Linked DNA regions of Homo sapiens. The protein of the gene in region 2 interacts with the protein of the main gene of each other region in a pairwise test. Each region holds a gene or a part of one and is shown on either strand. Other genes may lie near its edges.

Region 1 (7,027 bases), on a different chromosome or scaffold from region 2:
TTAATTAATTTCACCTTCTGTATAGTAAAAGTAAGTGTGACATAACAGTCTCTAATGGTTGTGAAAAATATGCCTAAAAGGGCCAAGTGCAGTGGTTCATGCCTGTAATCCCAGCACTTTGGTAGGCCAAGACGGGCGGATCACTTGAGGCCAGGAGTTTGAGACCAGCCTGGCCAACATGGGGAAACCCCATCTCTACTAAAAATACAAAAATTAGCTGGGCATGGTGGCACATGCCTGTAATCCCAGCTACTCAGGGAGCTGAGGTGGGAGGATCACTGGAGCCCAGGAGGCAGGAGTTGCAGTGAGCCGAGATCGCCCCATTGCACTCCAGCCAAGGCGACAAAGTGAGACTCTCTGTCTCAAAAAAAAAAAAAAAAAGAAAGAAAGAAAAAGAAAAATGTACCTAAAAAGTAACTCAGAATTACTAAAGTTTGCTAAAGTGAATCTTTAGACAAAGAGAACACAAGGGCAATTAGAATTGGAGCCCTAGAATGAGAGATGTGGTGATCGACCTGAACCTTGCCACACAGGTTGGAGGTACACCCTTGAGGGGACATATAAACCTGTTGGAGGGAGCAGCTCAGAGGTGGAAAGCATGGACTGAGTATGGGAAGTAGCCACCAGTCTGGTGGGCTGTAGACATACTTCAAGTAATGAAAGGATAGGGCAGAGCCCTCCCCAACATCTGCATCTGCCTCCCCTCTCTACTTCCCTCAAAAACTTCCCAAAACAAGCAGTACAGTATATAGATAAAAAGAGAGTCATCTATCCAAATGCAGCTAGAAAACAAATTCCCCAGACTGCCCTGCCTCCCAACCACATTGCCACCTCTGAAAACATTCCACCATTTTTGCATCCCCCGTTTTCGTATGGAGAGTCACCGGGGTGAAGGGCATCCTATTCGAACAACTATTTTCAGTCCTTTTTCCCCGGTAGGCGTGCATGTTGTACAGGTCCATATCCTTCCAAAGGTCCCATTTGAGAAAACATCATCTTTTTCGCCCTAAGGGAACTAAATACAGATATGAATTTTGGGTATTTTGTACACAGTTAATATTGCCTTTAATTCAAACAAAGTTCATAGTGCCTTATCTCAGTAGCCTGTTGTATATTAGGTGCTTAGTAAGATTTATTTTTTTTTTGCTTTTCCTGCTCCTAATATTCAGTTATTGTTGGTTTTAGAAAGCTTTCTCACTTATTTTGTTTGTTTCTTTCTTTTTAAAGGAGCGGTTTAAAGAAGCTGAAGAAATATACCAAACTGGAATAAAGAACTGTCCAGACAGCTCAGATTTACACAACAACTATGGGGTTTTCTTAGTTGATACTGGTAAGTGAAATTAAAGAGAAACTGTACTGCTGAGATTAGCTAATACAATTTATCAAGCAAAATGGAAGGCAAATAATCCTCAGAAGTAAAATTCACTGGGCTTGGCAGGAAGCTCACACTATTGACAGTCATTATACCTCGGGGCTGTCATTTCTCTAGATCTTCAAGCTCGATTCAGTAAAATCTGGCCATTCTCATACTCATTTCTCTATGGAAAACTCCCCAGGGGACAGGAAGTAGCCTTATGATTTAATAAGTCCCAATCTTCTTTGAATATTATTTATATATATTTATAAATCCATGATGATGAAATGTTTCTCTACAATGATGCAAAACCTGCCTCTGAAAGCAGTTACTGGCAGATGGTAAATACTTTTCTATAACATATTTTTTAAAAGCCTCCAGAATTGTTCCATCATTCCTTCCTTGATGTACATTAGAAACTGCATTATTAAAATTGATACAATGCTCTTATATGACAGGTGCTATATAAAATACACTTACTTTATCTTACTTAATGCAAAACATTACTGGGCATGAATTCTCTTTTCTTTATGACTTATGTAGTGCCTCTGTACTGTTGGCATGCAATGTAAGTAATGAAATTATATTTAAATGTAAGGCCAAAGCACCACTTTGTTCTTGTTGATTACTAGACTAGCTGCCCTGCAGCAAAATTTAGTTTAATTAGTTTTTCAATATGAAATGCTTAAAGGGGTTTTATTTTCAAGGATATTTGGAGCTCTCTTGTTTTACAGAATATAAAATTTACATTCTGATACATCTAAGAAACTTACCTTATTTTTGCCTGTGTAAAATTGTTGTGTAGTGCCACCTGCTGGTTCATTGGCCACATAATAATAAACTGTCTTAAAAATATAAAAACTAGAAGAAACCTCTAGTTGGGCAGGTCTAACCCTCCTCCTTTTACTTCAACAACAGTCCCACCCCACCACACCCCTAAAAATGATAACTCTGTGACCACCCTATGACATTGAGCCTCTGCCTCCAGAGACAGAGGCTCCTAGGGACCTCCTAGTCAAACTTGTATTCAAACAGATACGCTTGAAAAGATTTCTGTGTAGATAATAGACATTCCATTCTATTTAGAATTTCACAGTGTTCTAAAGTGTAGTTACTGAATATAGTTTCACCAGGAAGCTACTTTGAAGAAACCTATCAGAGTAGAGGGCCTTCATTCTGCTTCTGGCCTTACTCTCACTTGCCTTGGGATCTTTATCAAGTCTGTTGAATATCTTTGCACTTTAGTGTCTATATCTGTAAAGTGGAAAATTTTTGTGTGTGGTTTTTTAAATATCTCTTAAATCCTGATAAACAGCTAAACAGTATCAAAAGGCAGCTAAATTGTATAAAAAAATACCTGCAAAAACCATACAAATGTAAGTATTTAAAAATATATAATGCATTGGACAAGTGCATGGTGGCATTATTATGTTGTAAGTCTTATTAATTAAGTGCCATTCAAATGAAAGTGCATGATTTTAAAAGAGATTTTCACTATAGAGCTGATATGTGTTATTTAAAGTAATGCTTCAATTGCTATGTTGAAGTATAGTTCATTGAGACAGACCCTTAGAAATTGCTTCTGGACAGTTTTATTTCTACAGTAGCCTGTTCTATTTTTTATATAATGAGAGCCAGTTATATCTTGGATAAATAACAATCACTAATAATCTGAAGGCATCCTATTAGCAAGAGCGATGACCAGAAAAATTTCGACTAAAATAATATATATAATTAAAACAATAGGTTTTAGTTTTTACTGCTTTTTTGTTAATTTTTTTGGAAGTATGAATGAACAGTGAAATTGTTCAAAGTTAGGCAATGGCCAGGATGAGAAGCTGAAATGCAAGCTAATTTGCATATTGAATAATTTTGGTATAACTCTGTAATAATGAGAAAGAATTATAAGTCAGAAGAGAAAGTGAAATGTTCATGTCTTTTATAAAAAGGCATGTTCTGCTCTTACCAACCTGTCACTGGTTACAGGCTTACCAGAAAAGGCAGTGGCCCATTACCAGCAGGCCATCAAACTTAGCCCCAGTCATCACGTGGCCATGGTGAACTTGGGAAGACTCTACAGGTCACTGGGAGAGAACAGCATGGCTGAAGAATGGTACAAGCGGTAAAGTTCCCTTTCTTTTCTTTATAAGTTGCCCAGGAACCTCAGCAATCACTCATCAGCTTCTTAGTTAATCAGAATAGGTGTGCTCTCAGAATACTAGCAAATTTTGCCAATTCAGGTGATACAAATTTTTATCTCCAAAGAAAGCAACCACAATATAAATGGGATCATAATTCATGACTTTGGCTTGCTGGTTAGACTATAGTGCTGAACCAAGGTTGAAATTTAATTCCCACTTTAGTCAGTTTGTTGTTTTCTGAAGCCATGGATTGCAACCCCAATCATAAACAGCAATTTAAAAAATGAGGATACATGAAAAACTATGCACACATGAGAACAAATTCATCATAATTAATGAGAAAGACCCTTGGGGCTCAGTTTCCATATTGATAGGTCAATAAGACATTCTTACGTTCCAACTATGGCATCATGATCATTTTGTAAAAACCTTGTTCTTGGCCAGGTGCGGTGGCTCATGCCTGTAATCCCAGCACTTTGGGAGGCCAAGATGGTCGAATCACCTGAGGTCAGATGTTCAAGACCAACTTGGCCAACATGGTGAAACCTCGTCTCTACTAAAAGTACAAAAATTAGCCGGGCATGATGGCGGGCACCTGTAATCCCTGCTACTCAGGAGGCTGAGGCAGGAGAATCACTTGAACCTGGGAGGTGGAGGTTGCATGAGCCAAGATTGTGCCACTGCACTCCAGCCTGGGTGACAGAGTGAGACTCTGTCTCAAAAAAAAAGAAAAAGCCAAAAACCTTGTTATTGATATAAAAACAAAGACCGTATTGGAGCAGAGGTTCAAACCATGGACCGTCTTCCCTAAATCTAAGCCTAGACATTTGGAAATGTACCTATTAGAAGAGAAATGTCATTTAGATTTTCTCCAAACTCAGCGCCCTGCAGGTGGCACACAAAGCTGAGATATTGTCACCTTTGGGAGCACTGTATTACAACACTGGCCGATACGAAGAGGCTTTGCAGATTTACCAGGAAGCTGCAGCACTTCAGCCTTCTCAGAGGGAGCTCCGCTTGGCACTGGTGAGTAGGATGAAAGAAAATGAAGCTGGCAACCTAAGCACAGGCAGCCATAGAGAGAGCTGTAGTCCTCACGCCTCAAAACTGGAGCTGGAATGCCGTAATATATCCACTGTATGAATATTCATACAGCTAATGTTAGAGCCATTCTCTAAAGACATGGACACCAAAAATACTGCATTTTTGTTTTGAAATAACTTCAAACTTATGAAAGTGTTGCAAGAATAGTAAAAAATTTACATATACCCTTTCATCCAGCTCCAATGATTTGTAACATTTTGATTCATTTATCACTCCATTGTGTATGCATATGTAGATGTATATGTACCTACATGTATATGTGTGCATATTTAGATATGTATGTTTGTATATACCTATTATTAGTGTGTGTTATTTTTTTCCTGAACCATGTGGGAATTAGTTGTATATATCATTCCCCTTTATCTCTAAATACCTTTGCAAATAGTTTCTAAGAAGGACATTCTCTAACATAACCACAGTGTATTTATTAGACTCAGGAAAATTAACATTCATACCAACAAAATTTTTATTTCAGTGTTTGGAACTTCACTCATCCTTTTCCTTAGATGTGCAATAAATCAAATTTGTTATCTTGCTGTAAACACACTGTTCTGATGAAATCAGAGGAAATTCTTTCTCTTCTGACTTATTTGGTCAACCTTTTTTAAAAGCCACAAGCCATTTCACTGGATATATTTAGTGTTTCTGCCACTCACTCACAAATGCATGCACAAAACTAAATAAAGAAACAAACAGCAAAAAGTCAAAACCTGAAAACTGGTGATTCAGCCTTCTCTATGAGTCACTAAATTGATGCTGAGCATGTTTGTCAGGAGTGCGTTCTGAATGCTTCTATTCAGGGATGCTTTATTTGATAAGGTAATGAAGTCTCTGCTAAGCCAAGGTCCATGTGGTTTTGTAGGCTCAGGTTTTGGCCGTGATGGGTCAGACAAAAGAAGCTGAAAAGATGACCAATCACATTGTGTCAGAGGAGACCGGATGCCTTGAATGCTATCGCCTCTTGTCAGCCATCTATAGCAAGCAGGAGAACCACGACAAGGTAAAGAAGGACATTGTTTAGAGTTCTTTGGATTCATAGGTTAAACATGGGGTGCACCTAAGTGATTCTCCAGTTTGCGTGTTTATAAGCCTGGGAAATCTTAAATCTTATCCGTCAGCATATCCTATCTCTTGGAAACTTTTCACAGATATCCCCTTAACACCTAAGATGTCCCCTTGTAATAATATTTTTCTTGGCTTATCTTTGGTGTAAAGCTTTTATGTGGTATTGTCTTAGTTTGTTTTCAGCTAAGTCTATAAAGATCAAGACCAACATTTATATGCTTTATTATTTTGTATTTTCCTTCTTATATATTGTTTTATGTAATCCTCATAACAACCATGCTTTACAGGGTTGTTATGAGGATTACATAAAACAATATAGAAGAGGAATATATAGGAAGATTACATGAAACAATATATAAGAAGGAAACACAGGGTGACCCAATGTCACAACTGTTATTATCTCCATTTTAAAAGTCACATAATCAGTAAATTTATAAACTGACTCAATGAAGTAATTGTTGAAGGCCCACTATGTCCTGGCCACTGTAGTAGGCATCAGAAATAAAGTGGTATGAAAAAAAAAAAAAAAAGTCACTGCCCTTGTCTTCATGGAGCTAACCCATAGAGAAGGAGATTAAACAGGTACTCACAAAACAAATGTAGAGTGATAGCTGTGCCCAGGAATATCATGAAGCGCTACCTCTCCCAAAGAGCATATAATCAGGGGACCCGATGAGTCTGGGAGGCCAGGTCTCCCTGTAAAGTGATGTGGAGGTGAGGGCTGGATGAAGAATAAGAGTTGTTAGGCAGAGGAAGAAGCAAGGAGGATTCTGGGCAGGGAAACGCACATGCAAAGCCCTGTGGCAGCAGTGAGGGGCCTCTCTGAGGAATGGGAGTGAGGGAGCAGGAGCACCGTAGGAACGCAAGCACAGGCTGCTGGGAGGAGACTCCTTGGGGCCAGGCCAAGGGTTTTGTTCCTTACCATGGGAGAAGCTTTGGGTTTTTGTGGAGAGGAGGAACATGATCAGATATTTGCTTTGAAGGGATCTTTGGCTGCAGTGGGGTCAGTGGGTGCTGGGGGCAGAATGGTCACTAGGACCTGAGAGGGGCTGGTGGGGTGGTCCAGATGAACACATGGTCAGGGAAAACGTCTGATGCCAAATCTTGTTTTCTTTCAACTGTATCACACCACCTCCCTGTAAAGTAATCAAGGATATTTTATTGCCACTCATCGATACGTGGGAAAACTGGAGTGTAAGAAAGTTATTTTGTCAGGGCCACTAATTCCCAGTGAGAAAATCAAAGATAATGAAGAATGTATATATATTTGAGACAAGGTCTTCCTCTGTTGCCCAGGCTGGAGTGCAGTGGCATGATCTCACCTCACTACAAGGTCCACCTCCCAGGGCTCAAGAGATCCTCC
Region 2 (7,027 bases):
GCCTGTGGCTCTGGTTCCAGGTCTCAAGGGTACAGCTTGGTTACATCCCCAGGCCCCAGGCTGATTCTCCTGCCATCATACTGCAAGCCTTCCTGTACCACTTTGACCCAGGTTGAGGTCTGGCGGAAAATAACCTCAAAGGCAATTAATACAAAAAGCTTCCTGTAAGCTAAGAGGGGTTATCAACTATATGTACTTATTTTTCCAGAGATTGAAGAGAGAAGAGAACGAGCCAAGGCTTGGTTTTGTTTTATGTTGGTGGCACATGTAGACACTTTGGCATAACGAACCCCATAGAGCCTGCAGCCCAATCCACTCTGTTTTGGTTTAGAATGAAGTTTTTTTTTTAATTATTTTTCTTGGAAGTAGGGAGGATTTGAAAGCTTGAAAATCAAGAATCAAAAGACAGTGAATCTAGAAGGCATCTGGGAGCAGAACAGAGATTGAAGACGGGTGGGCACAGGAGAAAGCGCCACCATCGATCCCGGCTGCTGCCCTGGAAATGTGATTTTCTTAATAGCTGAGTTCATGGTTGCTTGAGGTCAGGCCTGGCTATTCATTTCCAGCGATGTCTGACCAGAGAGGACTCATCATTGACGACCTCAGGGTCACGGGGGCGACGCTGACACCGGAACGGCAGCAGCAGCAGGACGATTAAGACAAGGAGGATGGCTCCACAGACGCTCATGAGCGCATAGGACACAATCCACAAAATGGGCTCGCTCAAAGACTGAGCGGGGACACAGTTGCTGGCTACATCCTCTGTTGAGAAAGGCCCGGAAATTTCAGACACTGCAGCACCTGCAATTTCTGGGGAGACAGAAAGGGAAAATCCACAGCTGTGAAATGAGCGGTCCACCTCTCACATTGGACACAGACAGAACCCCTTGGTTTATTAAACCACAGTTAAAGTCCACTGAGGTCCCAGTGGCTTAGACAGCTCAGGAAGCACTGAGTGGGGTCACGGCTCAGCGTGCCTTTGGGGGTCCAGTCCCTGCAAACTGGAACGACGGCATGTTTTAAGGTGTGTGGGTACCGAGCCTAGGTGTGGAGGGGAACTGCAGCAGGGCACATATGGAAGCACCCTGTGCTTCATGGAATGCCAGCGACACTGCGGTACTACACAGGTGAGAGTGCAGGTCAGCACCTGGTCATGACAGCTGTGTGGGTTGTGCTTCCTCAGTGGAGATGAAAAAAGAGGAGAAAGAGAAGGAGAATTTACCGCAGAAAGCTCAGCTGGACCTGCCTACGTCATGGGGAATTTTCCCCAGTGGAGTCAACCTGAGTTCACTCCCTACCATGGATTCTACAACAGATAGGGACCTCATATCAACCTGACTCATAGTCTTAGTGGGTTGTGAGACCTCCGGGGGTCAGGCTGGCTTGAGAGACCCTCCCTGCCCCACTCTTATCCTAGGTCTCATCAACAGCCAGGAGCAGTAAGTGAATGCAACACCTAATTCATGACATCACTGGTGACAAAGAGAAACAGTTAAAATTCACCCGGTGACTTCTGCTAGAGACTCTTGAATAACTTCAAACCAAGAAGGAAGTTGAGATGATTTCTTAAAGCCGGTTTGTGGATTATCTGTAGACTTCCTTTGCCTACACTAGGCTTCTCTGCCCCTTTCAGGAATATGGGATCTTAAGCTTTACTTGCAATACGGAAAAGAAATAGGCCTCATTACCCATTTTTCCTATATTTAATCACAGAAATGAATATTTTGGCACCAGAAAATAACACTGCTAAGAATTTGATTTTTCTGTAACTAAAGCCTCAAGATCTTCAGAGCTGCCAAATAATACCCTTTTTGACTGAGGAAAGAAAAAGTCAAAATAACAATGCGATAATGACCTGAAAAGAATGGTTTTAAAATCAGAGGAAAACAGGCTTGATTACTTTGCAAAGTGACTGCATTTTCTTGCTAATGTGGATTCTGTCATAATATGGCTTTCCTAAGTGCACTGAAAAAGAAAGGCAATGAACAAGAGCCTGCCAACACCGAGAACAGAGGGATGCACCCTGCAGTCAATCTATACTCCCATTTCCTGGTTTGTAGATAATGATCTTCTTGCTGTGTCTTTACATGGTGGAAGAGACAAGGGAGCTCTCTTGGACTGTCTTTAATAATGGGCAGTAATTCCATTTACAAAGAAAAGCTCTGCCCTCGTGACCTAATCACCTTCCAAAGGCCCCAACTCCAAATATCATCACCTTGGAGATTAGGTTTCTGTTGCGGGAAGTCAGGGACCCCGAACGGAGGGACTGGCCAAAGCCATGGCAGAAGAACATAAATTGTGAAGATTTCAGACATTTATTAGTTCCTTAAATTAGTACTTTTATAATTTCTTACGCCTGTCTTTACTGCAATCTCTGAACATAAATTGTGAAGATTTCATGGACATTTATCACTTCCCCAATCAATACTCTTGTGATTTCCTATGCTGTCTTTACTTTAATCTCTTAATCCCATCATCTTCCTAAGCTGAGAATGTATGCCACCTCAGGACCCTGTGATGATTGTGTTAACTGCACAAATTGTTTAAACAATATGAAATCTGGGCACCTTGAGAAAAGAACAGGCTAACAGCAATGTTCAGGGAACAAAGGAGATAACCATTAGGTCTGGCTGCCTGAGAGCCGGGCGGAACAGAGCCATATTTCTCTTCTTTCAAAAGCAAATAGGAGAAATATCGCTGAATTATTTTTCTCAGCAGGAACAGCCCTGAGAAAAAGAATGTGTTCCTAGGGGTAGGTCCCTGAAATGGCTGCTCTGGCAATGTCTGTCTTTTACGGTTGCCGATAAGGGATGAAATAAGCCCCGGTCTCCCATAGCGCTCCCAGGCCTATCAGGACAAGGAAATTTCCGCCTAATAAATTTTGGTCAGACCAGTTGTCTGCTCTCAAACCCTGTCTCCTGATAAGATGTTATCAATGACAATGCGTGCCCAAAGCTTCATTAGCAATTTTGATTTCGCCCTGGTCCTGTGATCTTGCCCTGCCTCCATTTGCCTTGTAATATTTTATTACCTTGTGAAGTATGTGATCTCTGTGACCCACACCCTATTCGTACACTCCCTCCCCTTTGAAAATCACTAATAAAAACTTGCTGGTTTTGCAGCTCAGGGGGCATCACGAACCTGCCGACATGTGATGTCTTCCCTGGACACCCAGCTTTAAAATTTCTCTCTTTTGTACTCTTTCCCTTTATTTCTCAGACCGGCTGACACTTAAGGAAATAGAAAAGAACCTACGTGAAATAATGTTGAATTATCGGGGGCAGGTTCCCCCGATAGGTTTCAACATAAGAATTTTGGCAGGACATAAACATTGATTCTACAGCACTAATTATGCAAAGAAGCAGGAAAACACAGTTCATAATAGGGAGCAAAATCAATCAATTGGAACTTAGTAAGAAATGGCACAGATGATAGAATTAGCAGGCAGGATATCAAGATATTTATTATAACTGTATTCTACTCAGGATGCCAGAGAAAATGTTAAACATGTTAAATAGAGACACGGAAGACATTAAAGATCTAAATCAAATTTTTAGTGATAAAAATTATAATATGTGAGATGAAAAATATACGGGATGGTTGTAAGAGCAGATTATACACTGCAGAAAAACAGACTAATGAATTTAAAAAAAACCAAAACAATAGAAATGAAGCACAGAGAAAAAACTGAAAAAAAAGAGAGAGAGAGAACATCAGTAAACTGTGGACAATATCAAGCTGCTAAATCATGTAATCAGAGTACTCAAAAGGAAGAAGGGATTGTGAGGCAAAAAATATTTGAAAAAACCAAAAATTTTCCAAATTTTATGAAACTATAAACCCACAGACCCAAGAAGCCCAAAGGACCCCAAACACAAGAAACATGACATAGATTATAATAGCGCACTGCTGAAAACCAGTGATAAAGAGAAAATTTCCTAAAAGCAAGGAGAGAGAAAAAAGAAATATTATGTACAAATGAATAATAATAAGGATTACAGATGATTTCATGTTGGAAGCAATGCAAACTAGAAGACAATAGAGTAACATCTTTAAAGTACTGGGGGTAGAAGAAGCCCTGTCAACCGAGAACTCTATACCCAGCAAAAATATCTTAAAAATGAAGAAGAAATAAAAATATTTTCAGTCATACACAAGCTGAGAGAACACATCACAGATTTTCACTACAGAAAGTTCTTCAAGCAGAAGAAAAAGGACATCAGAAGGAAACTTGAATCTACACAAAAGAATGATGAACACCAGAAGCGGGAAGTATATAGTAGTTATAAAATCTTTACTTTTAATTTTAAATATTTACAAAGATAATCAATTAAATCAAAAATTATAACAATGTGCTGGGTGGCTTATAATATAGGCATAGGTAAAATGGATGACAATAGCACAAAGGACCGAAGGCAAGAAATGGAAGTCTATTGTTGGAAGGCTCTTAGACTATATGAAGTGGTAGACTGTGGTCAGTTAAAAAATTTACACTACATATTCTAAAGCAACCACTAAAATTTCACGATATAGAGTTATAGCTAATAAACTAGCCAAGGAGATATAAAGAAATAGAAAATAATCCAAAAGAAGGCAGCAAAAAAGGAAAAAAGGGAAAAAATGTAACAAATGAGACAAAAAGAAAAATAGTTTTCTTTGTTGTGTTACTGGTTAAACACAGACATATCAATCATACATTAAATATAAATAGTCTAAACCAGCATTTGGCAAACTTTTTCCGTAAAGGGCCAGATAGTAAATATGTTAAGCTTTTTAGGTTAGCTTCTTTCTGATTTTTTCAACCCTTTAAAAATGTAAAAACTATTCTTACCTCACAGGCCATACAGAAACAAGCCACATGCTGGATTCAGCCTATAGACTGTTGTTTGTGGATCTCTGGCCTAAACATCACAACTAAAAAACAGAGACTGCTAAATTAGATAAAAAGCAAGATCCAAGTATATTCTCCCTACAGGAAACTCACTTTTAATGTTAAGACTCAAAATGTTAAAACTAAACAGATGGAAAAAAACTATCATATTAATGCTTATCAAAAGAAATCCAGAGTGGCTATATTATTAGACAGAATAGATACAGATCAAAAAAATTACTAGAAGTAAATATAGTAGTTTCATAATGATAAACTGTTTCCTTCATAAATAGGACATAAAAATCCTAATGTTTTTTTACCTAATAACAGTGTTTCAAAATACATAAAACAAGATTGATGAAAATGCAAAGAGAAATAGACAAATCCACAAATATAGTCAGAGATTCCAATATCCGTTTCTCAATAATAGAGCAAGTAGACAGAAAATAAGTTATGATATAGAATACCTAAACAACACTATTAACTAACTTGATCTAACTATTATAAACTAATCCACCCATAATAGCAGAATATACATTGTTTTCAAGAGCACAAGAAATATTTACTGTGATAGACTATATTCTGGACAATGAAATAAGTTTCAATAAATTTCAAAAGATTCAATTCATAAAAACTATATTCCCTGCCCACACTGAGGTTATATTAGAATAACAGAAAGCTTCTGGAAAAATCCCTAATTATTTGGAAACTAAATAACACATTTGTGGCCAGGTGTGGTGGTGGCTCATGCCTATAATCCCAGCACTTTAGGCGACGGTGGTAGGAGGATCACTTGAGGCCAGGAGATGGAGGCTGCAATGAACTATGCTCACGCTACTGTACTCTAGTCTGGTGACAGAGCAAGACCCCATCTCCATTATATATATATAAAATCTTTGTGTCCTGGGGTTAGGCGAAAAATTTCTTAGCTATAGTACCCAAAAGCACAATTTGTAAAAGGAAAAAAAATGGATTTTATCAAAATTAAGTAAGAACTGCTCCTCTTTAATAGAAAATATTAACAGACTAAAAAGACTTGGCAAAAATATTTGAAAGCCAAATTTCTGATAAAGGACTTGTATTCTTCATATATAAATAACTCTGAGGACTCAATGAGAAAACAAACAACCCTATACAAAAATGGGCAAGAACATTTGAAAAGACATTTCATTTAAAAAGATGCATGAATGGCAAAAAAGTACATGAAAAGATATTCAGGATTATTAGTCATTAGGGAAATGCAAATTAAAGCCACGATGAGACCGCTAAATATTAATACCTATTAAAATGAAAATACTGACCATACCAAATGTTGGTGAGGATGTTTAACAACTGGAACTTTCATACACTGTTGGCAGGAATGTGACATGATAAAGCCAACTTTGAAAATGAGTTTGGCAGCTTTTTAAGTAGTAAAACATACATGTTATGTAACTCAACGATTCTACTCCTAGGTGTTTATCCAGGAGAAATAAAAAACAAAATATATGTCCAAGGACTTGCATGCTATTGTTGATAGCAGCTTTATTTATAATTGCCAAAAAACCCAAAACTTGGCAACAATCCAAAAGTTCATCAACAGGTGTATGGGGATAAAGAAACTATAATGCCTAATTGATCTGCAATAAAAATGAACTTTTGAACATGAAACATTATAGATGAACCTCAAAATAATTTTATTGTGTGAAAGCAGTCAGACAAAATGGAATACATACTGTATGATTTCATTTATATAAAATTCTAACAAATACAAACTAGTCTACAGTGACAGAAGGCACGTCAGTGGTTTCCTGGGAATGGCATGGGGTCCACAGGACCTGGGAGGCAGGGAAAACAGCTCAGTGCATATGATCACTACCTTGTTTGTGGTGATGGTTTCAAGGTGCGCACACATATAACACTTATCAAACTGTATCCTTTCAACATGAACTGTTTATTTTACACCAATTATATCCCAACAAAGCTGTTTCAAAAAGTCAAAAGAATAAGATAGTCAAAGCATGTCAAAGAATAGCACATCTGTTATAATCTCATTGAGATTAGAAAAGAAAAACCGAGGCCAGGCTCGGTGGCTCATGCCTGTAATCCCAGCACTTTGGGAGGCCGAGGCAGGTAGATAACCTGAGGTCAGGAGTTGAAGACCAGCTTGACCAACAT
Region 3 (7,027 bases), on a different chromosome or scaffold from region 2:
AACCCTCGAGGAGCGACCACATGACCCCCGCGCTGTGAGCTGCTGGCGGCCAGCGCCCTCGCCTCGATTGTCTGCAGCCCTGTAGTGGGCCGCGAGGCACGCAAGCCGCAACTACAGCTCGCCAGCGGGGCACACAGACAGGCATGCACCACCACTACCCGTCGCCCGGATACACTGAACTGGTTTTGAAGCCTGAACTGCAGAGATCCTAATATAGCAACGCAGGACGTTTACGGCCACCCGCCAGTGACAGCCGGTGATGTGATGACAGGAGGGCCTGGGTGAAAATGTCAAGACACTCACTCTCAGAGAACGACGACTCCACTTGAAATTCATGTCTGGTGAAACGGGACCAGGTTTTTATTCTTCTATTTCAAAATGATAAGCATCATCACACGATTTTACAAGTTAAAATGCCATTTGTCACTGCTGCATCTCTGATTCTATAACCTGAGATACTGCTGGGGGTAAAGGAGGGTGTTAACTTAAAAAAAAAAAAAGTATGAAAGCCACTCTCATCGCTGTATGTGACACAGCACAGTTGGCATGGACCGCCACAGCTTCCTATTATGATAACTCTCATTTTCTTCTGAGCAGAAACTCTTGAAGTAGTATCAGGTTTTTTCAGACATTATATAGCAATCTGTATTTCACCTTTAATTAAAAAGGATGCTATAAAAATCACCTCCGAGCAACGTTTCAGTTCTTGATGCAGAAGACTGCTGCTGGCTAGGCAGTAACTACAGTGTATTGACCGGAGGGCAGCAGAGCCCTCCAGTGGCGACTGGCTAATGCACGCGCTGCCCTCCTCATGCAGCTGTTGAGCTCCCACTTCGGTCGACAAAGTGAAGGACTAAGCTGGCTCTAACCACACACACACACTGCGCTGCAATGCTCACACCTTGGGGGAAAGGACTTCTCATTATTAAAAACCAAGGACTCACTGGCGGACGGGCAGGCCTTGTGTTTTGGGAATGGCTGATGGCGCCCTGGCCCTTCCGTAGCGAAGATGCAGCTCGTAGGCCCAGGCCTCGAGGTTGCCTCCCAGCTTTCTGAGTATTGAGAGTTTGGGTTTCACAGATCAATTATTTCTGATTTTTTTTTTTTTTTTGGTCAGTGAACTGACAACTACAAAAAAAAATCCCCATGTTCTTTAAAATGCATTTGAAAAACACTAGCCCTGTGGCTATTTCTCTGTATTTGAATAATGGCAACTGCTTTAAAGGAAATGGTCAAATAGGCATGTTTTCCTCTGGCAGGGTCAATCATGCTTAGCTGCAGGTGATTTAAATTAGATTACTAGTCACCTTCACTTACGATCCTGCCAGTTTTTGCTCTCTATATACTTTAAAACTCTTTCACATTAGATATGATTAGTATGCATTTACATACATTTTAAAAGAGTATGAAAACATCTGGAGGCTTTTAATAAGACTTTCCAATTCCCTTTTGCAGCAAAGAGGCAGAATCAGTTCAACACACCGATGTAAGAGAAAAAAGAAAATCTCAACAAATCAAAATAATATTCAAACCACAACATTTAGTTTATCTACATCCCGCTCAACAGCAACATTTATAATATATCAATAATCTGTATCAGAATTTTCTCTGTAGGGTACCTTTTTCATATGTTCTGATTATTTACAACTGTACAAGCGAAGCACACTCCAAGTGCACGTATTTAATACAGTATTGACTATTTGCATTTACAGGATTTTCCAACATTCTGAAAAAAGATCAACTGTTGAAGATCTTTAAGGTATATTACAAAAACTACTACTAGCTCTTGTACTACAGTATGCTTACTCAGTAAAACTAGCGACAGGAGATCCACGCAGTAACTGAGTAACTCTGACCCACTCACGCCAACCCAGGGCCGGGCTCCATGGACTCTAAGCTGTCTTATACAAAAGTTAAGGCAAAGTCATTTTCAAGTTTAAATAAAATTCAAGTCTTTAAATATTGGATGGAAATAATTTTTTCTTAAAAAAAACCCTCAGTCTTGTTAAATAACATTTTGTGGAATAAAGTGTATGGTTACATTTAGCAGGAAATATTCTTATTTTAATGTTTGCTGCTTAGAATAAAGAAAAATTTGAGGCATTTTAAAACAAAATAATTTATATTTAACTTTATTATAAACTTGCTAACTTTAGTGCATCCTTGTTCTTCAGAAGTGCAGCACTTCTGGAAGTGAATCAATGAGGCCCTCGTCTTGGAGGTAAAAGAGCAGGAACTTTATCCTCCACCAGCCAAAGAGGGGGAAAAACCACAAACACCATTCTCTCACGATTACATAACTCTTAAATCCATGTGCTGATGCAGAGGTACAGGGAGATGTCCACACGGAGCTGAAGATGTGGACTCTCTCCAACCAGAGTGCTGGGGAACACGGACAGAAATGTGCACAGAGCAGGGCCGGGGCCATCAGCTCACAGGGGTCAAAACAACATCATGGTACAACTTCTGGTAACATGTCAGTGGGCAACAAAGTGTATGTTTTCATGTAGGTTCTATTCACAATGTGCTTTGAATTTATATTACATAATAGCCACTTGAAACTGGAGTGAGAAGCTGGTTACTTGCTTGCAGTGCATCAGAACCAAGGTTTCTGGGGTGGCCCCTGCAGGTTCACTCCGCCCAGGAGATCAAAAAGGATGCGCTCTCTACATTCTTAAATGCCACAGTCCCCTACCAACGGCTTAGGTGGAAGCACAGCTCCCACATCAGCACTGATGCCCTGGCGCGGCCAGCACTGCCTCTACGAGGCCACACCTGCCTCTGCCAAGGCCACTGGCCCTCATTCATCTGCGGGGACGTTCTAGAGATATGCACTTACAGACCAGTTACTTAAAAAAAAAAAAAAAAAGCAGAGTTCCCTTAATTTAGAAAAACTCACTATATATAGCTTGCATTCAGAGCCACATGGAGGCTTAATAAAAAATACCAATTTGTTAGGATAAATGCTTTTTCTATCTTGGAAAAAAAAATCAGACTTATGCATCACCTCCAGTTAAGCACCAACCTAAAATAAGGTTTGTATTAATTAAATCCTGAAAAATCGATTTTTTTTCAAGAGGGGGAGAATCCAACTCACAGAAGAAAACCAACTTGAGGATCCCACAGGCCTCAGACACTGCAAGCTCCTAACCAGCGGCTCGCCCTCGCACTGAGTGGGAGAGTGTCTCGTTTGTGGTTAACACAGCGCTCTGCGACCCCTCCCAGACGTACGGTTTTCACTGAGGAGACTTGGGGGGAGTGCTCTGCTCTCGGCTGAGACGCTTCCCCATGGCCGAGGGCGAGGGCCGGCCCCCCGCCGGCCGCCTCTGGTCTCTGGGGGCTCCAGGTGTGGACTTGAGGGCTGGGGGCTCCCGGTATCTCTCTGCGGGCTCTGCCAGCTTCTTTTCCTCCTTCCCACAACCAACAGTGTTTGGCTTTTGTTCTTTTTGGGGTTGCAATGGGGAAGAAGGAGGCTCTTTACTCGTTCTCTGACAAATCTCTGCGTAGCTGGGCTTTCGCAATTCCTGGAAACAGACAATCCTGGGTTACCTGTGTGAAATGGTGTCTCTAGGGACAAGACAGGAAATCAAGTTCACTTAAGATAAAAGAGTTTTCAACTGTAACTAAGTTTCCATCTTCACTAGTGTTTTTAACTTTTAAAAAGTTCATAAAATCTAATGATTTAGTTTCCCCTGCAGCAGAACACTCCCTCTGTGCTACTGTAGTAATGGATAAAATTAGAAAAGGCATGACGAAGAAGAGTGCTGACTCAACACCATCCCTACCCAGCCCTATGCCTGCTTGGGCAATGCGGAAGCCTAGGAAGAGTCCGGATGCTGCCCACACTGGCTCCGCCAGCTCAGGACAACAGAAGGGTGTCCCAGGTGCCCACGGTGGGCAATGGACCCTCACACGGTACTCAACCCTGAAAGGCAAACTCCAAAAACAGTCTTTAAATAAAAATGTTTTGCACATTTCAAACTACAAAGGACTGGAAATATCTAAGAATGATGAAGACAGCTAAAATCTTCAAGAAATGTGTAATAGGGTTTTCAGGTAAGTGGAAGCATAAAGACTAAATAACAGAAAAGTAAAATATTTCCCTTAATAACTTTTTTTTTTTTTTTTTTGAGACACAGTCTCACTCTGTCGCACAGGCTGGAGTGCAGCAGTGCAATCTCAGCTCACTGCAACCTCTGCCTTCCGGGTTCAAGTGATTCTCCTGCCTCAGCCTCCTGAGTAGCTGGGACTACAGGTGCCCACCACCAAACCCAGCTAATTTTTTGTATTTTCAGTAGAGACAGGGTTTCACCATGTTGTTCAGGACTGTCTGGATCTCCTGACCGCATGATCTGCCTACCTCGGCCTCCCAAAGTGCTGGGATTACAGGCGTGAGCCACAGCACCTGGCCTCTTTTATTATTATTATTATTTATTATTAAAATTATTAATTTTAACCTATAAAAAATCCTTTTTTAGACTCAGCCCAGGGGACAGTAAGGGATTAAACTCCCAAATTCAAGGAAAAGGCTCCCCCAAGATCAAACTACAGAGGCCACAACTCAGAGTAAGAGAGGCCACAGTTCACCCAGTAGGGAAAACAGCAGAAAGGAAGTCGCTGGGGTTCAGGCCTGCTGGGCCCACAGGGGTTGGAGGCTGGTGGGGCCACCATCTTGCTCTTCCTGTCTCTTCATCAGACACACGATGCGCGCGCACGCACGCAAACATACACACACGCGCGAAATGCTGAAATGATCCTAAAGTCTATGGAGAAACAGGAGCTGGGGTCTTGTTACTACTCAAGAAACCTCTATTGACCAACACTGAAATAAAAGGACTACATGGTGGTCTGAGAAAGAACTAGAGTAGTTAGTGGAAAATTATTAGCAAATATTAAAGGTATTTTGTACAGAAAACACAACACAGACAGACGCAAATAAAAACCCACCAAATTAGATGTGATTAAAAAACGAGCAGGTGCAGGAGTGCGCAGCGTCTGTTCACACCAGAGCCTCGCGGCTGTCGTGCAGGAAGGCAGGCACGAGGTACGTACCGTGGCGGCTCCGTTCACCTGCACCGATTTACACGCGGTCGCAGTGAGGGCGGAAGGAAGTCTGTCCACACTGTGGGTTTCCCTCTGTTTCTCCGCCACCTTGGGATCACTGTAAAAATGCCACCCGATATTTGAATCTCATGCAACATCACAGGCCATTCAAGTCAGTCAACACCAAGGCGCTGGAAGAACACCAATACTCACTCGGGTAAATGAGCTGGGGAGGGGGATCGCTCGTACGTTGCTGATACAGCACAAGAAGCCGGCACCGAGGGCTCTCTGGAGACCACTACAGGAAGGGTGTTCACGCTTGCGTCTGCACTGAGGGTCTGAAACAGGGTCAAGAGTGTTCATCAGAGTCCTGCCGGCACTAAGCGGAGCTGGTACCAGTGCCCGTTCACCCCACCCGTGAACAGCCTTGGGAGAGCAGCACAAGGACATAGGGGAAGAGGGTCTTCTCCAGCAAAAATGTCACAGAGCCCAGGACTATCCTCTGCCCCACAGATCGCCCACCCTTCTCTTTCTCGGCAAATGCCCCACTGTTCTTACATCACAGGCCCTTATCTCCTCTCCCGCAATGATGATCTACAAGCTTATTTCTTAACTGAACAGGCATCAAACACATCTCACCCACCTGGCACTTTGGGCCCAGCACGGCACGGCACAACACCACATGCATATCTGCTGAGTGTCGAATCCTAACACAGTCCAACACAACTCATTCACACCGCTGAGAAAAAACAATCGGCGCCTCCACACCCATATAAATGTGAGCTCCCAGCCCTCCCTGAATTCACAACCCCAGGAAGCAGGTGTGCGAATGCCCCCATCTCAACAGGTGAGGAAACTGAGGCCCAATACCTCTAAGTTAATTTGCCCAAGGCCAGGAAGCAAAGGACGGAGTGAAACTTACTCCCTCCTTACTCCAGCCAGCGACCCCTGTGCAGGGGCTATTTCATGTGTGCTTGATCTTATACATATGGCATGTGATGATACACTTGTCATGCAACTTAAAAAAGGCAGGAGGGCAGGTGCTCTTTACACTTCTGCCCTTAGATGAAGGCTGACGACAGACCTAGAGCCCTTCCAGCTGGAGAACCAGAATCCGCTGCAATTCCTGCGCTCGACCAGCAGGAATCCAGCTTGGTGGAAACAAGAGGGCAAAGGACTCCTTTTGTAAAAGCTCATTTTAAATTCAGGGTAGGGGCCGGGCACGGTGGCTCACGCCTATAATCCCCGCATTTTGGGAGGCTGAGGTGGACGAATCACCTGAGGTCAGGGGTTTGAGGCCAGCCTGGCCAACATGGTGAAACCCCATCTCTACTAATAATACAAAAATTAGCCGGGTGTGGTGGTGCATGCCTGTAGTCCCAGCTACTCGGTAGGCCGAGGCAGGAGAATCACTGGAACCCAGGAGGCGGAGGTTGCAGGGAGCCAAGGTCGTGCCACTGCATTCCAGCCTGGGTGACAGAGCAAGACTCTATCTTAAATAAACAAATTAACTAATTAATTCAGGATATGTGCAGTCCCAATGCAAATGAAATGCAGATCCACAACTGCAGGTCATGAAGCAAGTCAGAGTGACCATCACGAGCTCCATGTCAACAGGGGAAGGGCTGAACCCCATCATTTCTGGAGCCTCCACCCCACTTTGAAACCCAAGGGCCACGCTGTTGACTCAAGAAGCTCCCAAGAAGCAGCAATGGAGCCCACTACACCTGGGTGGTGGCATAAGGCTCAGGGTCAGGCTTTTCAAAGAAGCAATTCTTTCTTCAAGAGAAACCTTACACAAGACTCAAACTGGGCACAGCAGGAGCTGCTGTTTCTGAAGCAGGGTTGGAGACCTGCCTCTTCTCCTCCACTCAATACCAACGGGAGTAGGCTACAGTTGGAAAACTAGAATTCATGATCTTTAAACTGCATTTCTTCTCAAGGCACTAATACCTTAGAAATGACGGTGTGGAAATTTAAGGCT
Region 4 (7,027 bases), on a different chromosome or scaffold from region 2:
TTTCAGGGTTAGTGGGAAAGATACAAAGAGGCAGATTAGCATCAAGGATCAGGGATCCACAGCAAACAGATGAAGCCCCAACAACTCTTTTTGGTGCTGTTTATCACTTGGCTTGCTTCTGGGACTCAGCTCAATTCTTAGGTGAATTTGGTATTTCCCATCTTGGGTAGTTCCCTGAACTTTAATATCAGGGAACCAATTAAACACACCCAGGAGGCCTGAATTTTGTCTTAATGTGTCAGGGCCCAAGTTACTGGCTCTGTGGGCCCTATTTCCTTAGTTGTATGGATTCTACCTCTAGCAGTATCCCTTCTGAGAAGACTAAATTTGAGAAGCAAATAGAAAAATCACAGTATAATGAAGAAACTATGAATACAAAATATAAAAATTACAAGTCAGTCAGGGTTCTCCTTCTGATCCAAGATTAATTGCCTCCAGAGCTTTTTTTTCTTAGACAGTCTTGCTCTTCAACCCAGACTGGAGTGCAGTGGCATTATCTCGGCTCACTGCAACCTCCATCTCCTGGTTTCAAGTGATTCTCCTGCCTTAGCCTCCCGAGTAGTTGGGATTATAGACATGCGCCACCAAGCCCAACTAATTTTTTAAATATTTTTTAGTAGAGACAGGGTTTTGCCATGTTGGCCAGGCTGGTCTTGAACTCCTGGCCTCGAGTCATCCGCCCACCTCAGCCTCCCAAAGTGCTGGGATCACAGGTGTGAGCCACTACGCCCAGCCTTTAATGTTTTTCTTTTTTTTTTTTTTTGAGATGGGGTCTCACTCTGTTGCCCAGGCTGAAATGCAGTGGCACATCTTGGCTCACTGTAACCTCTGCCTCCCAGATTCAAGCGATTCTCCTGGCTCAGCCTCCTGAGTAGCTAGGATTACAGGTGCACTGCCACCATGCCTGGCTACTTTTTGTATTTTTAGTAGAGACGGGGTTTCACCATGTTGGCCAGGCTGGTCTCCAACTCCTGACCTCACGTGATCCACCTGCCTCGGCCTCCCAAAGTGCTGGGATTACAGGCGTGAGCCACCGCGCCCGGCCATGCCTCCAAAGCTTTTGCCAAACAAATAACCAGCACCAATGTTTCAAAGATAAGGGTGGAGATTCTAGTTTCCAAAGGATAAAACCAAAGCACACCACTATGCATAGCTTGTACCCCCATCCACCCACAAGCCAAGATCCCAGCCCCACTCTACTGTCAGATAGTTACATAGAGGTCATGTCATTGAGGGCGTGGTCCAGCTCCTCGCTAATGGCCTTGTACTTCAGTTTCTGGGCATAGAGCTCATCTGGACAGGCACAGGAACCACAGGGAGGAATGAGGGGACAGAGTGAAGAGTTTCAGAAGCAGATGAAGAGAGGGAATCATTAGAAATTAGGAAAGTGTGACTGTGGGTCTAATACCACAGTTAGGAAAATATCTACTCTGGCAACCATGACTGGACATTTTCAGATCTACTCTCTCCTATGACCAACTTCCTTTCTTGATACTCCAAATCGACTGCAGCAAGGGCTGAGAACCTGGGCACAGTCATAACTAGAAATTCCTATTACCAAAAGCACTCAAGAGGATACCACTCCCATCCAGGTACCCAATTCCTAGCAGTGATAACACTTAATTGAACAAAAATAGCAAAGGGAGAGAGTATATATCCATATTCAGACACTTCTCTGCCTACAAAATGTGAACCTATTAGTGGCCCCTCTGCTCCACAGGCTGCCCCTGCAACTCTGCCAAGAGAGTGTACCAAAGGAGCATACATCAGAGTTCTCAAAGCAAAGAGTACGTTCCCTTGTCAGGGTGGATGGCAGTTACCAACTTGCAGGGACAGAAAGTATTTAGAAAGCTCCTGACATTGGTCAATGTTCAGATATGGTTATTCCACAACTTCATTTATTGGATAAATACCCGACAACTTGAGTGGCAAAAAGAACTGTGGAAAGTAGCCATGAAATGACATACATCTTGCCCTTCTGAAATCATGGCTTCCATTTAAACCCACAGACTAAAGGTTTAAGACTAATAAATTGGAGGTAAATGCAGCCATTATCATTCTCCTCAAAAGGGAAGGGTACAAATTGCAGACTATTTGGTAAAGTCTTCTTAAAGGAAAAGATTAAATTTAAAAAACCAATTCTAGAGTTTGACCCACTTTGCCTAGCTGTGGCATAGGACAGTGCACATGATATTAATACATGCCAAGTCACTACCAACTTCCTTTGGTGTACAGAAAAAGAGATTAATGGTTAATGGGCAGTCTTCCTCTATATTTCTCTATTTCAATCCCTACTCCAGGTTCCATACCTTCCAGGTCATCAATTGTCTTTTCCAGCTTGGCTACCGATCTCTCAGCAAACTCAGCACGGGTCTCTGCCTGGGGGAAATATGAAATTAGTCAGAACCAGAGATGAAGACAAAGAAGAACAATCTCTATTTCTTCCACCTTCTACTTCTGGACCTTTCAGAACCCAAACCAGCCAGTTTAAATCCATATTAATGCCTTATATACCTCTAAATGTTTTGGGTTCTGCCCTATAAATCCCCTCAGCTCACCTCCTTGAGTTTATCAGTAAGAATCTTGATTTCTTCCTCATATTTATCTTCTTTTTGAGAGTACTGTAAGATAAGTAGATTAAAAATTTCAGAGTAGAAATTAGTCACACAGGCAATACCCCCCTCCCTACATTTAACTTACATTGAATATCCTCTTGCACTAAATGTGCTGAATGGTCCAAGAGTAAGAGCAAGGCCTGGCTCTGGACAATAGGTCCTTGAAATTCAGAAATCTATGTCTTTAGAGCCATGAGATCCTCAGGTTAAAATTCTCCATGACTTTTTAAGATGGATCTAAGCTTTGATATTATTCAGATCAACCCAAGGAGGTGTTTTTCCTTTCCCCTGCTTGATGAGCAAGAGTAGTAGCACCCCAAGGTCACATGACTGAAACACACCCACATGATGGCAAAGTGAAGTCATCTGTCTTGATTGCTCATTAGGTCTCAGAGCTGATTCTGTCTGTTGCCCCCATCTGTCTGCTAGAAAGCCTGTTAGGGCCCTTGATTATTGCTTTTCAGCACAGCAGTATCAGCCTAAGGAGCACATGACTCCAGTAACCTGAGACCAAGAAGTTATTTTAATTAAAGCAATCAAAGTGCACAGAAAATAGCATTAAACCCAGAACCTGAATACATGGTAAGGAGGTAGGAAGAGGACACGCCTCACTGGATTATATATGGAATGCGTGTCTCCAGTCTTTCATCAAGGGCAGGGCTGGGCCCAGGCCCCAAAGCCTGTCACTTTCACAAACCAGCCCCTACCTTCTCCGCCTGAGCCTCAAGAGACTTGAGGTTGTTGGTGACATTCTTCAGCTCCTCCTCCAGCTCAGAACACTTACTGTGAATATTTTAAATACCACAGGAGAGGAAAAGGGAAAAGGAAGAGAATAAAAAAAGGGAGAGAGACACATAGACGTGAATTGAACCTATATGTAGAGAGAGTTGGAAGGCATACTGGGGAAGAGATGTTCCCAAGTAACCTGAGCAAGCATCAACCCTCCTCCCTCTACCATAGAACGTGTCAGGAGCTAGACCTTCCTGGGCTCAAAAATGTTTGAATACTAATAAAGCACTTGAGAGAAATCCACTACCAGGAACAAGTCATAACTGCTACCTGGGGTGGAGGTGGGAACAAATGCCCAACCCAAACAGTCCCCCAAATCACCCAAAGGAAGGAGACCCTGTGGAGAGGCAGTGAAGCAACTAGGAAAGAAGAGATGAAAGATGCCAAGTAAGTGGAAAAGAATGGAGCATTCCATGAAGAGATGAGACAGCACTCAACAAAATCAAGTGGAGGGGAGGCAGCTGCAAAACAAAAACAAAACAAAACAAAACCACACCACATATATAACCTTGCTGTGGGCTTAATGGTTAGTACCTTTTCTTCAGCAGCACTCAGACACTTCAGGTTCTGGTCCATCAGTCTAATCTGCTCATCCATCTCTCGGCAACGGCTGTTAGTGATAGTCACGGGGATGGCACAAGCCAGGTTGTGGGGAGGGAGAAAGGTCAAAAAGGAACACAGCAAGAAAACAAGCAGCAAAACGAAAAAAAAAAATTCAAAAAATGGGAAGAGAACACCACCATGGTCATGATATGTTATGTCTGGCAGACGGGAATGTAAGAGGGAAGCACAAATACATATGCATTCAGCACTGACTTTGTTAATCAAGGCCCAGAAGGTACCGACGGGAGAGCAGTTAATATCTACCCTTGCCCTAAGGTTCCCTAGCAGATTGGCAAAGTGGCCAAAACAGACACCAGATTTTTTTTTTAAATTTATTTGTTTTAGGGACAGGGTCTCCCTATGACGCCCAGGCTGGCCTCCAACTCCTGGGTTCAAGCAACCTTCCTGCCTTGGCATACTAAGTAGCTGGGACTACAGGTTTGAGCCACCACACCCAGCCAGACACTAGATCTTAAATCAGGATAGCCACTTTGATGTCTTCCACCCCAGGTGGAAGGACCCAGTAGGATCTTCCAATTAACTGTTCACCATGTATTAGTCCTTATTTGCTCTCAATTTGTAAACCCTACCAACAAAAAATAAGAAAGCCTCTTTTGTCACTTGTCACTAGTCAGGAGAATAAGGAAGCCTAAAACCATTCTTGGGCCTAAAAAAGCACTATAGATGACTCCCATTCCCTAGGCCCTGTTTAACAAGGTTGAAGGAATGCTAATTTATTCATATTAGTGCCCAAGCCAAAGGGGAAGGGATAAATTGGTAATGACAAGATTTGGGGAGCTAGATACTCACGACTCTGCCAGCTCAGCTCGTTCCTCTGTGCGTTCCAAGTCTCCTTCAATGATCACCAACTTACGAGCCACCTACAGGAAAAGATCCCAGTATAGCTTAGTGAAGCAAAGGAGCCATTTACCGCATTATGCTTTGTAAAAGGCCGATACGAGAGGGACTAACAGAAGGTCACTTACCTCTTCATACTTCCTATCTGCCTCTTCTGCAATGTGCTTAGCTTCTTTGAGTTGGATTTCCTGGAGTTCCATCTTTTCTTCATCTTTTAAGGCCCGGTTTTCAATAACCTTCATACCTCTGCCAGAAATAGGACAAAAGCAATACTGACACCCTGAGGAGTGTGTCGTCAGCTCCACTCCAAGGGTCTCAGAACTGTACTTTTAAAAGCCCACTCCTCTCTGTCTGCCCCTCAAATGGAAATTCCATGTTACTACTCCCACACCTTAGTTTAATTATTTCATTTAAAATTTTTTGTTATGGCTGGGCACAGTGGCTCACGCCTATAACCCCAGCACTTTGGGAGGCTGAGGCGGGCAGATCACCTGAGGTCGGGAGTTCAAGACCAGCCTGACCAACATGGAGAAACCCCGTCTCTACTAAAAATACAAAATTAGCTGGGCGTAGTGGCACATGCCTGTAATTCCAGCTACTTGGGAGGCTCAGGCAGGAGAATCACTTGAACTCAGTAGGTGGAGGTTGCGGTGAGCCGAGATCGAGCCATTGCACTCCAGCCTGGGCAATAAGAGCGAAACTCCGTCTCAAAAAAAAAAAAAAAACTTTTTGTTATAAAGGTAATACATCCTGGCCAAGCGCAGTGGCTCATGCCTGTAATCCCAGTACTTTGAGAGGTCAAGTCAGGTGGATCACTTGAGGTCAGGAGTTCGAGACCAGCTGGCAAACATGGTGAAACCCTGTCCCTACTAAAAATACAAAAATTAGCCAGGTGTGGTGGCAAGCACCTGTAATCCCATCTACTGAGGCAAGATAATCACTTGAACCCGGGAGGCAGAGGTTGCAGTAAGCCAAGATCGCACTGCTGCACTCCAGCCTGGGCGACAGAGTGAGACACCGTCTCCTCCACCACCCCCAAAAAAACTTATTAAGAAATTAAATACTAAAATATTAAATAAAAATATGGATATATACAGCTGGGCGTGGTGGCTCACGCCTGTAATCCCAGCACTTTGGGAGGCCGAAGCCGGCAGATCACCTGAGGTCAGGAGTTTGAGACCAGCCTGGTCAACATGGCAAAACCCTGTCTGTACTAGAAATACAAAAATTAGTCAGGCGTGGTGGCAGGCGCCTGTAATCCCAGCTACTTGAGGGAAGCTGAAGCATGAGAATGGCTTGAACCCGGGAGGTGGAGGTTGCAGTGAGCCGAGATTGTGCCACTGCACTCCAGCCTAGGGGATAGAGTGAGACTCTGTCTCAAAAAAATAAATAAATATTATTTAAATATATGTGTATATATATATATATATATATATATATATATATATATATACACACAAAAATCCCATCCCAGCTTCCCCAAAGTAATAATATACTAGACGGTTCTGCAACTTGTTTTCCACACTCTTTTTTTTCCCCCCGGTATTCAGCATGCAGCTATCCTCACTTTCTTTCTTTTTTTTTTTTTGAGACCAAAAAAAAGAGGGAGGCTCACTGCAACCTCCGCCTCTTGGGTTCCAGTGCTTCTCGTGCCTTAGCCTCCTGAGTAGCTGGGATTACAGGCGCGCCCCACCACGCCTGGCTAATTTTTGTACTTTTACCAGAGACTGGATTTTGCTGTGTTGGCTGGGGTGGTCTTGAACTCCTGGCCTCAAGTGATCGTCCACCTCAGGCTCCCAAAGTGCTGGGATTACAGGTGTGAGCCACTGCGCCCGGCCCTCACTTTCTATAATTTGCATGCTACTCTAATAGTATACACATAGCTGCCTCTTTCATTTTCACAGCTGCACAGTAGTAACGTACCCTTAGAAAGGCACTATTTATTCTGAAAACCCTTAGTTGTCAAGCACCTCTGTTCTAGTTTAACTCACATGTGGCAAGGAGACAACTGGCTATTTTCAAAAACATGAGTTATAATTTGTTTCAAGGGCCATGGTTCTCAACCCTAGGAACACATTAAAATTAGCTGGGGAAGGCCGGGCGCAGTGGCTCACGCCTGTAATCCCAGCACACTGGGAGGCCGAGGCGGGAGGATCACAAAG

The links.
Region 1: the proteins of BACE2 (region 2) and TMTC1 interact in binary tests that used the Homo sapiens proteins (3 or more experiments, as listed by UniProt).
Region 3: the proteins of BACE2 (region 2) and LARP4B interact in binary tests that used the Homo sapiens proteins (3 or more experiments, as listed by UniProt).
Region 4: the proteins of BACE2 (region 2) and TPM3 interact in binary tests that used the Homo sapiens proteins (3 or more experiments, as listed by UniProt).

What each region holds. Positions count from the first base shown.
Region 1 is NC_000012.12:29,514,921-29,521,947, reverse strand, and holds part of TMTC1 (protein O-mannosyl-transferase TMTC1), read left to right. Parts: intron 1-884; exon of another isoform or gene 885-1,015; intron 1,016-1,227; coding exon 1,228-1,330; intron 1,331-2,127; exon of another isoform or gene 2,128-2,217; intron 2,218-3,340; coding exon 3,341-3,476; intron 3,477-4,376; coding exon 4,377-4,521; intron 4,522-5,461; coding exon 5,462-5,599; intron 5,600-7,027. UniProt on the Homo sapiens protein: Transfers mannosyl residues to the hydroxyl group of serine or threonine residues.
Region 2 is NC_000021.9:41,269,154-41,276,180, reverse strand, and holds part of BACE2 (beta-secretase 2 isoform A preproprotein), read right to left. Parts: intron 811-7,027; coding exon 557-810; 3' UTR 1-556. UniProt on the Homo sapiens protein: Responsible for the proteolytic processing of the amyloid precursor protein (APP).
Region 3 is NC_000010.11:809,690-816,716, forward strand, and holds part of LARP4B (la-related protein 4B), read right to left. Parts: intron 5,382-7,027; coding exon 5,257-5,381; intron 5,162-5,256; coding exon 5,053-5,161; coding exon of another isoform or gene 4,948-5,052; intron 3,568-4,947; coding exon of another isoform or gene 3,525-3,567; coding exon 3,237-3,524; 3' UTR 1-3,236. UniProt on the Homo sapiens protein: Stimulates mRNA translation.
Region 4 is NC_000001.11:154,168,091-154,175,117, forward strand, and holds part of TPM3 (tropomyosin alpha-3 chain), read right to left. Parts: intron 5,112-7,027; coding exon 4,994-5,111; intron 4,889-4,993; coding exon 4,818-4,888; intron 4,015-4,817; coding exon of another isoform or gene 3,939-4,014; intron 3,399-3,938; coding exon 3,323-3,398; intron 2,622-3,322; coding exon 2,559-2,621; intron 2,380-2,558; coding exon 2,310-2,379; intron 1,294-2,309; coding exon 1,215-1,293; intron 1-1,214. UniProt on the Homo sapiens protein: Binds to actin filaments in muscle and non-muscle cells. Plays a central role, in association with the troponin complex, in the calcium dependent regulation of vertebrate striated muscle contraction.